Regions from separate parts of the Homo sapiens genome. Here region 1 is linked to region 2. Evidence: fine-mapped expression QTL. A gene starts in region 2. The other region holds a variant in brackets. All regions are shown on one strand. Distances are from middle to middle. Region 1 has its middle 16 kb from the start of FAM131C. Region 2 holds the start of EPHA2 (EPH receptor A2).

The links. PIP is the estimated chance that this variant, and not a neighbour inherited with it, causes the effect.
Region 1: its variant is fine-mapped to the expression of EPHA2 in whole blood (TOPMed, PIP 0.97).

The regions. Positions count from the first base shown.
Region 1 is chr1:16,085,284-16,093,604 of GRCh38, forward strand. No RefSeq gene overlaps it. Among named protein-coding and RNA genes, the nearest start is that of FAM131C, 16 kb to the left of the region's middle. The variant C/T (reference allele first, on the strand shown) is at 4,893.
Region 2 is chr1:16,152,490-16,160,765 of GRCh38, forward strand. EPHA2 (EPH receptor A2) reads right to left here and starts at 3,580. Exons shown (of 17, transcript NM_004431.5): 1 at 3,359-3,580. The coding sequence starts at 3,443. EPHA2-AS1 (EPHA2 antisense RNA 1) reads left to right here and starts at 2,726. Exons shown (of 3, transcript NR_187275.1): 1 at 2,726-3,266; 2 at 4,482-4,690.

The sequences.
Region 1 (8,321 bases), 67 kb before region 2:
TCCATCTCAGAAAAAAAAAAAAAGAAAAAGAAAAGAAAAAAGAAATAAACATTCATATGATTCTGTACCTGCTGGGTGAGGCTCCTCATGAACATTGTCCCTTTTCGTCCTCACGACCAGCTGAGGAAGTGGGATTATTTAGAGGATGGTTGTGCGGATAAGGAAACTGAGGCTCTAAGAGGCAAGTGCTAGGATTCCAAATTCCATCGCCTGAGAGGGCATCCAGAGCACAGGTCTCCATATCTCGAGGTGGAGATAGGAGGGGAGGAGGAGAGCGTGGGTCAGCTGGGCTGGGGCTGCTCCCTCTGTGGACCCTGGGCTTCAGGGTTGAATTGCTGCTGACACTTCCAGGGCCTGGCTGGGCCAGGATGGAGTTCAGGGCTGAGTGAAGGCAAGGTCAAGCCTTCTGATCCTGGAGGGCTGGGGGTCGTGGGCTTCAGGAGTGTTTGCCAGGCCTCGGACTGAGGAGGGGAGAGATGTGGCTCTGGGGACGGTAGTCACTTCCTCTTCCCTTCAAGGGAGCCTCCCAGGCCCTGCCAAGGAAGGACTGCTCCTCCCCATGTCCCTGGTTCTCACCAGAAACCTCAGCAGTGCTCTTAGGAAGTCCCGCTTTGGGGACCCACTTTTCTGGGGACACACCATGGCACTGTCAGGTGGAGAGTCTGGGCTGTGCCTTTTTTTTTTTTTTTTTTTGAGATGGAGTCTCTCTCTGTCACCCAGGCTGGAGTGCAGTGGCACAGTCTCAGCTCACTGCAAACTCCACCTCCAGGGTTCAAGCAGTTCTGCCTCAGCCTCCCAAGTAGCTGGGACTACAGGAGTGTGCTACCATGCCTGGCGAATTTTTGTATTTTTAGTAGAGATGGGGTTTCACCATGTTGGTCAGGCTGATCTCGAACTCCTGACCTCAAGTGATCCACCAACCTTGGCCTCCCAATGTACTGGGATTAGAGGCATGAGCCACGCCCGGCCACTTTTTTTTTTTTAAATAGAGACAGGGTCTTACTATATTGCCCAGGCTGAACTACTGGACTCCAGCCATTCTCCCACCTTAGCTTCCCAAAGTGTGCTGGGATTACAGGTGCGAGCCACCATGCCTGGCCTTGCTTTTTTTTTTTTTTGGCTTGACCTCAGCTCACTGCAGCCTTAACCTCCCATGCTCAAACAAGCCTTCTACCTCAGCCTCCTGAGTAGTAATGCCACCACGCCCGGCTAATTTTTTAAGTTTTTTGTAGAGATGGGGCTCGCTATATTGCCCAGGCTGGTCTTGAACTCCTGAGCTCAAGCGGTCTTCCCACCTTAACTTCCCAAAGTACTGGGATTACAAGCCTAAGCGATTGTGCCTGGCACCTTGCTCTTTTTTTTTTTTTTTTTCCTTAAGCAACAAGAACCTGTTTTATTTTTTCCAAATACAAATACAGAAGTTTGCATGTTCTGCAAATATTGCTTCAAAGCAACATTTCTATTTAGGGTGCCTTCTGTTCGAATAGCACGTGGACGTAGAAATGCATCCACGGTGCAAGGTTGGCTCGCCCAGGACCCACACTGCATACACTTACCGCTTAAAGAAACAAAATGGGAGGCCGGGCACAGTGGCTCATGCCTGTAATCCCAGCACTTTGGGAGGCCGAGGTGGGTGGGTCACCTGAGATCAGGAGTTCGAGACCAGCCTGGCCAACGTGGTAAAACCCCATCTCTACTAAAAATACAAAATTAGCCAGGCATGGTGGCGCATGCCTGTAATCCCAGCTACTGAGGAGGCTGAGGCAGGGAGAATCGCTTGAACCCGGGAGGCGGAGGTTGTAGTGAGCCAAGATCGCGCCACTGCACTCCAGCCTGGGCAAAAAGAGCAAAACTCAGTCTCAAAAAAAAAAAAAAAAAGAAACAAAATGGTCCAGGTACAGTGGCTCACACCTGTAATCCCAGCACTTTGGGAGACCGAGGTGGGTGGGTCACCTGAGGCCAGGAGTTTGAGACCAGCCTGGCCAACGTAGTGAAACCCTGTCTCTACAAAAAATACAAAAAAAAAAAAAAAAACTAGCCAGGCCTGGTGTCCGGTGCCAGTAATCACAGCTACTCAGGAGGCTGAGGCAGAAGAATCACTTGAACCTGGGAGGTAGAGGCTGCAGTGAGCTGAGATCGTGCCACTGCACTCCAGCCTGGGCAACAAGAATGAGACTCCATCTCAAAAGAAAAAAAAAAAAGAAACAAAATGATCAGTCAAACCAGAATTGTTTTTGTCAAGGTAGTTTTTTATAGGTGGATAGTTTTCTCTAAAGACAAAAGAGGTTGTGCACGTATTTCTAAATGGTAACAATAATATTTGCAAATAACAGTTTTCCAGTGCTCCAACTTGGGGTTAATTCAGCTTGACCCAGGACTTGGGAATGGAGCCCATCAACATGGCTTTAAATTGGGGAGGCACAATGAGGTCGTGAGAACTTGGGGAGTCCTCTCTGCCTAGGGCCGCTCGTTGATATGTCCTGGGGCGGTGTCACTGTGGGGAGGGTAGCCCTCCTCCTCACCATTGAGAGGCCCTGGGTCCCAGGCTTTAGATGGAAGAGAAGTAAGAGGTTGTTGGGGCTGAGGGCGGAAGCAGGAGGGTGAGGAGGCAGGAACAGAACCCTGCAGGGCCACTGACTCTCAGCCTCTGAACCTCCCCAGTCCCTCTCCCTCCTCCCTGTGCCTCCCCACACAGTCTCTCTCCCCGCAGCTCCCAAACCTTCTCCTTCCTGCCAGCCAGCTGGGGCGGGCAGACCAGGACCACCTTGGTCCAGGTGCCCCCTGATCTAATTTGTACTTTCTAACACTTCCTCCCATTTCCCCACCCCAGCCCGGGCTGGGCACCTCCTGGGAGGAAGAGGGGGAGGTAGGGCAGGGGTGGGGACAGGGAGAGCAGATTCCTAAACAGGAGACAGGAAGAAGCTCTGAGATGTTGGACAGAAAAAGGAGGTTCGGCTGTGACCAAATGAATAAACCTCACTCTGTCCCAGCCCCGCAGGCTGGCGGTGAGGACATGGGGATTGTGGGCCTGGCGTAGGTTTGGTGCTCAGGGAAAGATGGCTGTTACTACTGGAGAGTGGCCTCCCATGACCTCGCCTCACCTCCTCACTTCTCTGTAGGGAAACCAAGGCTCAGAGAGGGCGTGGGCCCAGTCCTGGGTCACACAGCGCTCACAGCCCGCTGGGGTGGCGCCTCCCCTGGGTGGCTCCCTTGGGGTGGGCTCCATTGTGCTCTCCCCAGCAGGAAACCGCTGTGCTCAGCAGCCTGGGCAGTAGGAGAAGAGGAACGAGTTTGGCTACGTGACCGGCAGGCCCTGGAGGCTGAGCCAGGCCCAGCCGGGAAAACAACCTGCTGGAGGCCGCCTGGGCAGGGCCAGGAGGGTGGGCACCAGGGTGGAGACCTCACTGCCCAGAGAGGGGGAAGTGGGCCGAGCTGTGGGCTTCCCCTGGGACAGAGTTGGGAGGAGTCCTTGGGGACCTGTGCCCCGAACCTGCCTGTGAGGGGTAGCTGGGCTCGTTACTTCCCTGATACGCATGGCCCCGGGGAGCAGCAGGTGGGCAGGTGGGCAGCGGGGCCAATGGGCACACACAGCACTGAGGGTGATTTGCACAGAATGCCACCCACTCTTCACCTCTGATTTATGAGGATTCGAGAAGCCAACAGGGCAGGAGGAGGGTTCAGCCTTACCCATGGGCCACTTGGCTCCCAGGGGCCCAGTGCCTGCAGGGGCAAGACCCAGGGGAAAGGGGCAGGGCCTCTGCTGAGCTTCCCCACCATAGGACTTGGAGCATGGGACTTGAGGCCCCTCTCGGGGCCTCAGTTCCCCTCAGCGACTCGTGCAACCGTTGCCTCCCTCACCTCCACACACAGGGCTGACTCAGCGCCTGGACACTGGCTATCAGGGGAAGGCCCCGCAGGCCCACGTACTTCACCGCTTGGCCAGTTTCCGCAGGGCAGGCACTGAATGCCAGAGCCACTAGTCAGGACTGCATCAGGAAGCAAAGGGGAGCTGTTGAAGGATTCAGCACTGGGGCAGGAGGTGATCAGATGAGAGTGCAGGAAGGGGCCAGGCTGGAGGCTAGAGGGAGGTGGGTAGAGTCCAGGTGAAAGGAGGAGGCCACAGCTTGGACCTCAGTGAAATGATAGAAGAGGGGTGACAGAATAAGGTTTAATGGATGCCTGTGAAAGATGGCAGGGGAAAGAAAAAGAAAGAAATTGGAGGCCGGACACAGTGGCTCACACCTGTCATCCCAGCACTTTGGGAGGCCAAGGCACAAGACTCGCTTGAACCCAGGAGGTGGAGGCTGCAGTAAGCCGAGATCGCACCACTGCACTCCAGCCTGGGTGACAAAGCAAGACTCTGTCTCAAAAAATAAAAAAGAAAGGGAAGGGGAGGGGAAGGGAGGGGGAGGGGGTGGTGGCTCCCAGCACGTTGGGAAGCTGAGGCACAAGAATCTCTTGAACCCAGGAGGCAGAGGTTGCGGTGAGCCAAGATCGCACCACTGCACTCCAGCCTGGGTAACAAAGCAAGACTCTGTCAAAGAAAGAAAGAAGGAAAGAAGGAAAGAAAGAAAGGAAGGAGGAAGGAAGGAAGGAAGTAAGTAAGTAAGTAAGTAAGGAAGGAAGGAAGGAAGGGAGGAGGGAGGGAGGGAGGGAGGTTGGAGGTGCAGGCACTGGGGTCAGGCAGCCGGTCCTCTTCCTGATGGCATGGCCCACTGTGTACCTGATGGTGTGTGAAGTCCATCCCTCTTGTCTTTTGAACATAACAAAAGTAAGGTTGGAACTGAGGCAGAACAAAGAAAGCCTCCTGTCTCTCTCTCTGGACACCATAGCACAAAACACCCTGGGCCACAGATGCCCAGAACCCAGAAACAGATGCAAGGAAGCAGGAA[C/T]GGGGACCTGCTTGCCAGTGCTCTCACATCCTTATTAGGGGAGACCAACTCTGCAGCTGTGACGCATTGCTTCAAGAAATGAAACTCTGGAAGGTGACCAGGAGAGAACACCCTGCCTAGATTACAAGAACCCCCTGAGCCAGAGCCAGTGCAAGCCCAAGCTGAGCCGTCAGCCTCTCCTGCATGCCACAATCCAAGACCCTGCCTCACTTGCCTGCTCTCTGGGAGAGGAAAGGGACCCATAGGATGGACATCTCCTGCCCTACCCAGTGCCCTACCCCAATCTCCTTATCTGTAAAATGGGCCTATAATGGTGCCTGCCTCAGAAGAAGAAGCCAAGGGCACTGTGTACAAGGGTGTGTGGCACATATGATGTGCCTGGTACACTGTGAGTGGCACATATGATGTACCTGGTACACTGTGCATGGCGCATACGAAGTGCCTGGTACACAGTTTGGTCTCACCCAGGCCCTGAGAGTCAAATACATGCTGCCCATCATACAGAAGAGGAAAACTGAGGCTCAGAGAAGTTAAAGGAACTGGCTCATGATCTCCCTACAATTCTAACTGTGCAACTCCTAGGCCTGGGTTCCCTTGGCTGGCAATGTGGAGGGAAATGGGTGTGGGTAGGTGGGTGCAGGCTCCACATGCTCTTCACTTGGCAAGAGGGAGAGGGGACCTACCCCCTTCCTCCATCTGTCCTGGCCTCTCTTCCACCTCCCAACCCCACCAAAGGCAGGTCCTGCAAGGAAGCATCCCTTTCTGACTCCAGAACTCCTCCGTGGGCTGCAATGACTCTCTTGGGTCTAACCTGAGTCCTTCCTACTTTGGGTACAGACTGCTTCCTCTCCACCTGCCTGCTGGGCTGGCAGATGGCAGCCACCTCTATCAAGACCCCCAACGCTTCAGTGATGTGGAAAAGAGGGGTCACCAACCCCTCTTGCAGGGCATCATCCTTTCTGGGCCAGGGGTGCCCTAAATCTCTGCCAGCCTCCCCTGCAAAAGGAACTGCAGCTCCTCACACTCCAGGGCTGCTGTGGGCACGTGAGGGAAATCAGGCAGAGAGGAAATCAGACATCGGGTTCTAAGCAAAGACCTGCAGTCGTCCTCTTCTGGTCACCCCTTCAGTCTCGTGCCCTGTCCCAGCGGAGCCAGAACCTTGAATGCCAACTGGGCCAGGCAGGAACAGCCAGCCTCTCCTGGCACACCTGGCCAGGTGAGCAGGTGATGAAGCCAAGAGCCAGCTCATCACTTGGGTGTAAACAACTGCCCAGTGGGAGGTTGGCAGCCACCTCCTCTGCTCTATCCCCAGTCCCTGCCCCGTGAGCCCCGCCTACCCAGAGAAAGAGGGTGTCCCAACTTGTTGGAGGAGTTTCCATCCCACATCGGTGCCTGGTGCCTGTACTGGGTGTGTGTGGGGGACTCTGATGGGGGCCCACAACGGATCTTTGTCCTCCAGACCTGCGCCCCTCACTGTCCGGGAGGTGCCCAGCTCTTTGGAATGCCAAGGCCCCTGTCTCACCCACCCACCCCAGATGGCTTTGCCATTCCCTCCCAGGGCCCTCGCCAGCACAACAGAGCAAGGGCCGTCTGGGAACTAGGTCGTGCCTTAAGCGGAGGGAGCTTGGCTCTCTCTACCCACCAGCTGAGAGCTGTGTCCCTTGGAAGAAGGCGTGCAGTTCCAGGTTTCCAGAAGGAGGACGAAAACAGACCTCCACTGAGCACTTGGCCCCGATGCCCTGCATTTGACAGATGTTGCCTGGAAGACAGATACTGCCACCCTCACTTTAAAGATGGAGAAACTGAGGCAAGACCACCAATTCCATGAAGGCTGGGACCTTCTCTGCCTTGTTTGCTCCCGGCACACAGCAAGATCTCAAGGTGTACTTGTGGAAGGGATGAATGGGGTTCGGAGAGGGCAAGTGACGTGGCCAAGGTCACACAGCCAGAAAGGAGCTCAACTGGGGATAATTCAGGCCGGTTTGAACCCTAAACTCAGGCTGCTTCTGAGACCCACCCACCGAGGTGGAGGCATCACACCTGCCCACATGAACGTGCACCCACCCCGCTGTCAGAGTCCTGCTCACACACATATACACATCTACACCTGTGTGGGTCCACCCAGGCACACAGCCCCCACCCACACCACTCAAGCCCATGCAAAGGGCCCTCCCACCATCACCTCCCAGTCACCCTCTTAGACACCCCTCCCTTTCCTGAGGTGTGCGTCTTCCTTCGTATCAATGAGCAGTAAATCCAGCTTTGTCCAGGTGTGTTTCTGGTGGTCTTTGGAAGTCTGTGGGTACACAGACTTCCTTCTGTGCTGTTCTCACACCCTCCTTGTCACCACCCCCTCCTCCACACCTGAGAGGCAGGATGGTACATGCCCTCTTCCACCCCCACAGCCCTGGTGCCTTCTCTGCCTCTCCAGGCCTAGCAGTTGCACTGGCACCACCGCTGTTCCGGAGAAGGCTAGAGAGTCACAGAACGTCACTTCTGGAAGGGCATCCCCCCAGCATATAGAGGGTCAGTCTCAAGCCCAAAGAACGCAGCACCCTGCCTGCGGCGATGGAGCTGACACCTGGGCAGCATTGGGGGAGCAAGGGGCTGGGCTGCCTGCAAGGTGATCCCATGGTGCAGGACCGGCTCGCTACTGTGTCACGTGGTCCAGCCTCCGGAGCAGCTGAAAGTGTAGACCGGAGAGGGAGGCCCAAACCCCAGGATCTCCTCCTCCTGCTTTGTGCACTCCCAGATCTGCCTGGGGACCAGCTGGGGTCTCAGCTCCCTGGGCTGTGGGGCGGGGGCCTTGTTCTCCAGAGCGGGCTGAACCTGGAATGGGCCCTGGTTCTCTACTAATAAAGGGCCCACTAGGCAGAGGTGGTTAAGGAGGCCCAGAGGACCCCTAGGAGGTCCAGGTGGCATGTACTGGACTCTGTGCCTGAGCCTGTACACTGAGTTTTCCATTTGACCTCACGGCAACCCTGGGAGTAAGGCATTAATTTGTTTTACGTACCAGCAATAGTCTTATTTTCTTTCTTTTTTCTGTTTTTTGTTTGTTTTGTTTTGATTTTTGTTTTGTGTGTGTGTGTGTGTGTGTGTGTGTGTGTGTTTTGTTTTGTTTTGTTTGAGATAAGGTCTCACTCTGTGGCCCGGGCTGGAGGGCAGTGGCGCGATCACAGCTCCCTACAGCCTTGACCTCCTAGGCTTAGGCAATCCTCCCACCTTAGCCTCCTGAGTAGCTGGGACCACAGGCATGCGCCACCACGCCTGGCTAATTTTTTTTATTTTTATTTTTGTAGAGACAGGGTCTTGCTTTATTGTCCAGGCTGGAATAGTCTCATTTTCTAGAGGGATAAACTGAGTCCCAGGGAGTTAAGGCACTGGCCCAAGGTCCCCAAAACCTGGCATACAGTGGCTGTTCACTAAGTA
Region 2 (8,276 bases):
GGGGAGGGTGGCTGGGGGCAGCGGGGTGGGCAGGGGCAGGGATTTGTTCAGACATGCCCAGGGCCGGGGCTTTGAAACTCACTAACCCCACTAGCAAATGGAATGTTCCAGCTACACAGGAAGGAATCTGGAGGCTCCTGATTTCAGCTGGGTGGGTAGAAGGACAAAGGTTCCTCACAGTCCTGCAGCCCCCCCTTAGATTGACAGGAGGCTGAGGTCTGTGCCCAAGTGAGAGGGCTCACCGCTACCAGGCTTCTGAAGGGTTAACCTGGCATGGAGGGCCCTCCCTTTCCAGCCTAGGCCTGGCTCTAGAAGTAGCACAGGGCTCAATCGGAGAAGAAAAGAAGCCCTCACACAGGAAGGAGCCCCCCCTGCAGGGGTTTCCAACCCCGGCCCCCTCCCAGGGAAATTCCCTCGAACCAACCACCAGGAACAGGAGGCGCCCAGCGCTGGGTCCCTCCGCCCTGACGCGGGCGCGGCTCTTTCCCCAGGTTCTTCCAGGGACAGAGGCTCCCGCTTCTCTGGAAAGGGTGGGAGCCTGGGAGCCCCTCGGCTGACCCAGACGGCTTCCTGGAGAGGCTTAGGCTAAGCAGGGCTTATCCATGAGCTCTCTATCCCCTTACCTTCCCATTTCTGGGGGGAAAAAAAAAAAGCAAAAAACACCTCCTTCTTTGCCATGAGTTCCACCGTAAGTGCCATCTTTGTGGGTCCACATTGCTCCACAGCTTCTTCCACAAATGCAGGACTGCCACCCACTCCCGGTCTCCGGTCCTTCTCCGCAGCCTCCGAGGCTGTGGTTCCCTCCCCGCTTCCCCCATTCCTCTCTAACCAAGACTAGCTAATCCCTAAAGGAAGCAGGGAGGTGGGGACTCTGGGGAAAACATGAAAGAAAAGGGAAAGGGGACAGAGGGCAGACTTGGCCCCGGTAGAACCAGAAACCAAGGACTTCCTGGCACTCTCCAGCCCTCTTCCCATCAGCAGCACCCCAGCTCAGCACCCCCTGCCACCCGCCCAGGCCCCTGCCCAGCTATGCCTGCTTCCCAGGAAAATCTACCATGACACCAACCACAAAGCAGGCAGGGCCTTGGCTCTGGCAGCCAAGAAGCGGGATGCTCAGGTCTGGTCCTCTGTCCAGAAGGCCCTGGTTGGCAAGGGCTCGGGCCTCCCTCAGTTTCCCCATTTGTAAAAATGAGGGCAGATTCAGTGGCTGTTGATGACCTAACAGGAGCCACGTGGGCAACCAAGTATAGCCTAGGGGTGAGGGGGCAAGAAAGAAGTCTGAAGCAGCCTGGGGGTAGGTGAAAAAGGCACCTGTGTCCTCCTGCCTGCCCCCTAAGCCACCCCCAGGCAGACCCACCACATACAGCCTGATTCCCAGGAACTGAAACCAGCAGCTGCCAGCTAGGCCATCATGCCCACCCCCACCTAGGCACACTTCTCTAGGGACTCTTTCACGGGGACTCAGAGTCGAAGCAAAAATGTACCCCCACCCCAGTGCAATACACAAGCCTTTCCCCCTGCATCCCATGGGGTGTGGGGGTGGGGTTTAATCACACAGGCTGGGGAGAGGTGGACACAGGGGACAAGGACAAGGCAGCTCCAGGCTTCCAGGCCAGCTTGGGGACTGCAGCAGCAAAGCACCCGCCTAATCCCCCACCCCCCCATGGGCAGCCGAGGAGAAAGGCCTATAGTGATTCCAGCTGTCTCTCCCCTTCTCTCCAACCACAGTCCCCCAGGAAGGGGGAGGACCAAACGTTGGTGGGGCGGATATTGAGGGTGGCAGAAATCCTTGCCATGAGCTCCTGCAACCAGAAGTCCCGGTTGAGACCCCAACCCGGGCCCTGTCACTCCAGAGACTGAGACAGGATGCCACCCCCAACACCTGCCACTGCCCAACGGCTCCAGATCCGGCCTCTTTTCCTCCCAACACAGAACAGCAAAACCTCCAAACCCAGTTTGGGAGGCAGAAAAAGAAGGAAACAGGCCGGGGGTGGTGGCTCATGCCTGTAATCGCAGCACTTTGGGAGGCCGCGGCGGGTGGATCACCTGAGGTCAGGAGTTCAGAATCAGCCTGGCCAACATGGTGAAACCTCGTCTCCACTAAAAGATGCAAAAATTAGACGCGCCTGGTGGCGGGCACCTGTAATCCCAGCTACTAGGGAGGCTTGAGACAGGAGAATAGCTTGAACCCGGGAGGCAGAGGTTGCAGTGAGCCGAGATTGCGCCATTGCACTCCAGTCTGGGCAACAAGTGCGAAACTCCGTCTCAAAAAAAAAAAAAAAAAAAAAAAAGAAGGAAACTTCTCACCGGCCCAAGTTTCCTCCCGGCTTCCCCCTTGTGGAGCCTGCGGAAACCTCGCTCTGCCCAGGCAGGAGGGGAAGCCTTGCCCTCACTGTTGGAAATTGAAGCTGGCCTGGGCTGGGTGGACAGGAAGGTCTTCGGCCAGGGCAGGAGCCCCCATCCTCGCCCTGACCCTAGCGGAGGGACAACACCCCCACCACGCACCCGCTGCGCCATGAGCAAAGTCTGCGGCCCCTCACTCGGCGCGGCTCCGGGAACACTGGGGCGGGGGTGGGTGATTCAGTCCCCCACCCCCGGGTGTCCTGACTCCCTGGTGGCCCTGGGCTGACAGCTCCACACCTTGGGAGGCCGCACCCCCACCTGCCGCATTTCCTCGTTCTGAGTCACCCTTGCTCAGAACGCTTGACTTTGGGACTTCCTGTCCGCACTCGCGGCCCCTAACCTGCCCCGGGAGCCCGGGAGTGCGGCTTGGGAAGGAGGGAAAGGAGTGTGTGAGCAGGGATTGGCCCGAACCTATCTCCACGCTCTCCCCCGGGACTGGAGGTGAAGGGGGGCGTGGAGAAAATCTCAGGGAACAGGGGCTTCGACAGGGGGCTCCCGCCCGCCCGAGCCCCCTCCCCAAAATGCGAGGCCTGCACAGTATGCCTTCTCCGCAAAACCTCGGCAAGCGGGTTAGTGAATTCAGGTCACTAAGAAGCTGAGCCCGCGGAAAGCTGCCCAAACACCCCCTTCTCTAGGGGACTCCCCACGCCCCCCGCCGGGACGCGTTCCCGAAGTCGCCGCCTGGACTGCAACCGCGTGGCCTGCGCCGCGTCCTCTTCTCCGCAGCCTCCGAGGCCCGTGCGACCAAGCTGAAACCGCTTATTCTCCGGAGCCCCTATGACCCCGGGTGGGGGCCAGGGCTCGCCTCGATCGCAGCCCGTGCGCCCTCCGGACTCCAGTTCGCCGGGACTGGGCGACACCAGGTAGGTTCCAAAGTTGCGCGCGTCAAGGAGCGCCGGGCTCTAGGGGGCACTGGGGCCCGGGGGCCAGGGGTCCAGACGCCGCGCGCACTCACCTTCCTTGCCCTGCGCCGCCGCGGCCGCGGCCAGCGCACAGCCCCACAGCAGGGCGAAGCAGGCGCGGGCTGCCTGGAGCTCCATGCCGCGCTTCTCGCTCTCGGTCCGATCCCCCCGAGCCCGGCTCCCGCACACCCGCACGCCTGCACGCCGGCCTCGGTGTCCGCTCCCGCCCGCCGGCCTGCGCGCAACTTCTGCCCCTCCTGCCCCGAGTCCTTAATGGAAGTTGGGTGAGAACCGACTCCTGTTCATTCATGCCCTGCGTGACGTCACCAACGCCCGCCCTCAGGAATGTCTTTAAAGGGGCCGGGCTGGCACCCGGAGGAGAGGGAGGGGAAGTCCGGAGGGGTTTGGAGGAGGACCTTGGGGCCCTCTGGACTCGCGGGCTCCCCGCAGGCCTTCCAAAGTTTGAGCGTCTCAAAGCGCCAGCGCCCCTACGGATTAGCCCCCAGGGATCTCTGAGCCTGGTATCCTCGGTGGAAACGTTTAATGGTTTTGCGCTGAGCCATACCCATTCTGCCCTTCACCTCTGAGACTGAGCTCAATGCGACTGAGCTCAACGCTGGCCTGAAGGTCTGAGCTGAAATGGATTGGGGGTCCAATAAGCAGTTGCCTCCTAAGCAGCAGGCCTGAGAGAGTGGCCCAGAAATAGACCTGGATGCCCTCCTTCCTAAAACCCTTGAAGAGTATATCAAGCTGCTGATGGTCAAAAAGAGTATCTCTGTTCAGAAGCCTATAAGCCTACTATGATCTGAGAATAGGTTCATTTCCTCTGGGAATGGATCAGACATGCACTATCTTATTTATTAATAATTCTCATCTGGGAGGCAGGGGTCATCATCCCCATGTTACAGAAGAGGAGACTGAGGCTCCAAGAGCAGAAACAACATGCCCAAAGGGTGCACAGCTCACGGGTAGTAGAAGCAGGATTTGAATCCTGGTGGTCTCTGCTTGAACCACTGCTTCTTTTTGGGGAAGGGGGCAAGGGGCACCCCTGGCCCCCGACCCTGGCATGGGTTGATAGGTTTTGACAGTTTGGAGGACACCTGCCTACCACCTGCCCCTTGATAAGGCCTCTTCACAAAACTTCCTCAGACATGAGCTCATCTCCCTTCCTGACAGAAGCGGCTAGTGTGAGTGAAACAAACGGGAAATTTGCTCTGGCCCGCCTGCCCAGCCACCCACGGCTGCCTGTTGGCCAATCACCATTTGACCAGTCCAGGAAGAGCAACTGTGGCAGGCCTGATTTCCTGGGAGGCCCCAGACTCCCTTTGCCTACCTCTTCCTCTCTGACCCCATCCTCGCTTTGATGCCCGGGACCTGCTACCCAGGTACGTGGGTCTTCTCTGCCGGATGTGGACATCTTGGCCTCTCGCCTTGGTGCCTACTCTTGGGAAGCGGGTCCAGACATCTCTCCTGCAGGAAGAGAGGAAGGGTTAATTACAGGCGTTGGGGATAATTAAAGCCTTTGACCAAGAGGATGGGAGGAGAGCCTTGGTCCTCTGAGAGCCTGTGAGTGTGCAAGTGCCTGTGAGAATAAGTGCATGTGTATGAGGGTGTGAGATTTTGTTGAATGTGCATTCGTGTGTATAGACATGAGAGTGTTGATGTATGTATGACTGTGTGTGAGTGTGTGTATGGACATAAGTGTTGTATGTGACTGGGCAGGGTGGCTCAGGCCTGTAATTCCAGCACTTTGGGAGGCCGAGGCAGGCAGATCATTTGAGGTCAGGAGCTCCAGACATGCCTGGCCAACATGGTGAAACCCCGTCTCTACTAAAAATACAAAAAAATTAGCTGGGCGTGGTGCCACTCACCTGTAATCCCATCTACTAAGGAGGCTAAGGCAGGAGAATCACTTGAACCCCAGAGGCAGAGATTGCAGTGAGCCGAGATTGCGCCACTCACTGCACTCCAGCCTGGGCCAGCAAGACTCTGTCTCAAAAAAAAAAAGAAAAAAGTGTTGGTATATGTGTGTATAAGTGTGTGTGCATGGGCATGAGAGGATTTGGGTATGAGTGTGTGTCTGTGTGTGTTTTTGTGGATTGTGTGGATGTGTCTAGATGTGTGTATGAGTGTGCATGTGGGTGTGAGAGATTTGTGTATGAGTGCATGTGAGTGTGGATTTGTGTATGCATGTATTTGTGAGTGTGCCATACTTCACAGTAGATGTGGAGTCAGCCCATGAGTTTCTGAACAAGTTATTTCACTTTTCTGAGCCTCAGTTTGCTCCTGGAAAGATGTAAAGCCTATTTAGGAGAGTTACTGTAAAGATCAAATAAAGTCATGCATGTAAACCACAGGGGCCAGGACTACAGAAAGCACGCATGAAATCTCAGCTGTTACTGGGTTACATGCGGTTCAGCAACAGGAAGCCACATCCGTGGAGAGCAGGGCATGTGTTGTGCCCAGGGCTCTGTGGACAGGCACATGGGGTGTGTGGATGAGTGTGAGCATGTGTGTAGTACGTGGTTTGGATAAGTGTTTTGCATGTTGTATTGGAGCCTCTGGGCTAGGGACACTGGCGTGTGTAAGACTCCATGTGAGTTGTGTGGAAGCCACTGCTTGTACATGTGTGTTACATGCCACTTGCAGGCTCCATCTGTCAGATGTGTCACTAGAGGACACACTGCAGGAGGACAGGGATGTTTGTAGAAAACAGACAGTGCCTGGGCCAGGCGCGGTGGCTCACGCCTGTAATCCCAGCACTTTGGGAGGCCGAGGCAGATAGATCACTTGAGGTCAGGAGTTTGAGACCAAGCTTGTCATCATGGTGAAACCCCGTCTCTACTAAAAATACAAAAATTAGCCGGGCGTGGTGGCGCATGCCCGTAATCCCAGCTGCTCGAGTTGGAGGCAGGAAAGTCGCTTGAACCCAGGAGGTGGAGGTTGCAGTGAGCCGAGACCGCGGCACTGCACTCCAGCCTGGGTGACAGAGCGAGAGCCAAAAACAAAAAAAGAAAACAGACAGTGCCTGATACATACTAGATATTCAGCAAGCCTCCGCTGAATGAATGAACTAATGAGTGAATGACAGTGTTGCGAGTTCTGTGTTGCGTGAAAGTCTCTGTGTGTAGTGTTGGTTGGTCCTTCTGGTGGCAAGTGTGGGTTTCCATGTGTGGCCTCAAAAGGTTGAATCCAAGCACACACACGGCAGGGGTGCAGGCAGGCCCTGATGGCTGTGGGGCGTGTGCCCAGCAGTATGTGCACAAGTTGGGGGCTGAGAGCATAGGGCAGGGTGTTGCTCATCTGCAGCATGTGACGTGAACAGAGGCCTATGGAAAGGAGTGGTATGTCAGGTGGTGGCAAGAGGGTGTTCCACCTGGCTTTTCCCTGGCTTTTAGTCACCCATTTAATGACACACCCTTCCCTCTTTTCCTGTCCGACTCAGAGTCTTTCCCGCTCTAGGTGACTGGGTGCTAAGGAGGAAAGTTCTTCAGTGAGTCTTATAAAGCGGCACCAAAACGCGGTATTTATAGTGACATAATCAGCCCTAATGGAGATGGAATTACCCCATAAAGGCCCCAAGGAGCCCTCAGGGCCTCAGCGCCACTGCAGCAGACAAGGCTCCTGTACAGGCAGGTGGAGCCCGAGTGAGTGTGTGTTTGTGTGTGACTGCCTCTCCTGCCAATCCCTGCCTCCGGCCCACCAGCCTGCTTAGGGGCCCACCTTTGCTAGGACTTAGCTGGGGCTGGGTACTGGGGGCAAGGAGATGACAAAGGTGAATGCTGAAGCCATGGCCTCACTTACCCCACCTTTGATCTGTGCCTGCCTTTGGCCAAGAGCATCAGAAAAAAAATAATGCGGCCTGGGCAATACAGTGAGACCCCATCTCTACAAAAGAAAAAAGAAAAAAAATTAGCTGGGCATGGTGGTGAGCACCCGTGGCCTCAGCTACTCGGGCGGCTGAGGAAGGAGGATTGCTTGAGCCTAGGAGGTCAAGGCTGCAATGAGCCGTGATTGCACCACTGCACTCCAGCCTAGGCAACCAAGTGAGACCCTGTTTCAAAACAAAATTTTTTTAAAAAAAGAAAAGCAAAGAAAAAAACTGTAGCCAATACTTATGAAGCACTACTATGTGCCGGGCCCAGTTCTAGGCACTTATCTGTACTGATCCACTTAGTTCTCATGACACCTTCAGGGAGGTGGCCACTGCTCCTGCCCACATTTTGCAGAAGAGCAAATTTGGAAGTAAAATTTGGAGCTGGCATTCTGGCCCAGACAGGCTAGATCCAGCGCGCACTCTCATGGGTACCTGCCTCAACCATTGCCTCTGAATTCCACTGAACCTGGAGAGCAGTGCCCCGTCCTGGAATGTGCCAACTCTCCGCAGCTGGGATCTTTAAGGTCAGTCTAATTACTACCTCTTGGGTGAAACCCCCAGGGATCAGGCCCCCCCTAGAGCCCCAGGGGCCTCCATGCTACATGCCTACCAGCACCCTGCTCTCAACCAACTGAACTCTTTTTTGTTTTTCAAAGCCTCTGAACTATCTTCTCAACTAGACTGTAAATCCCTCAGAGGCAGGGTATGAATCCAGCAACAGGTAGAACAGTTCCCCACACATTCTGCTCAATAGATGCTAATTTTTTTTTTTTTTTTTTTTTTGAGACAGAGTCTTGCTCTGTCCCCCAGGCTGGAGTGCAGTGGCGCAATCTCAGCTCACTGCAACCTCCACCTCCCGGGTTCAAGTGATTCTCCTGCCTCAGCCTCCTGAGTATCTGGGATTACAGGTGCACGCCACCACACCTGGCTAATTTTTGTATTTTTAGTAGAGACAGGGTTTCACCATGTTGGTCAGGCTGGTCTTGAACTCCTGACCTCATGATCCGCCCTCCTCGGCCTCCTAAAGTGCTGGGATTACAGGCGTAAGCCACTGTGCTTGGCCTTAGATGCTCACATTTGATGGTGACATTCTA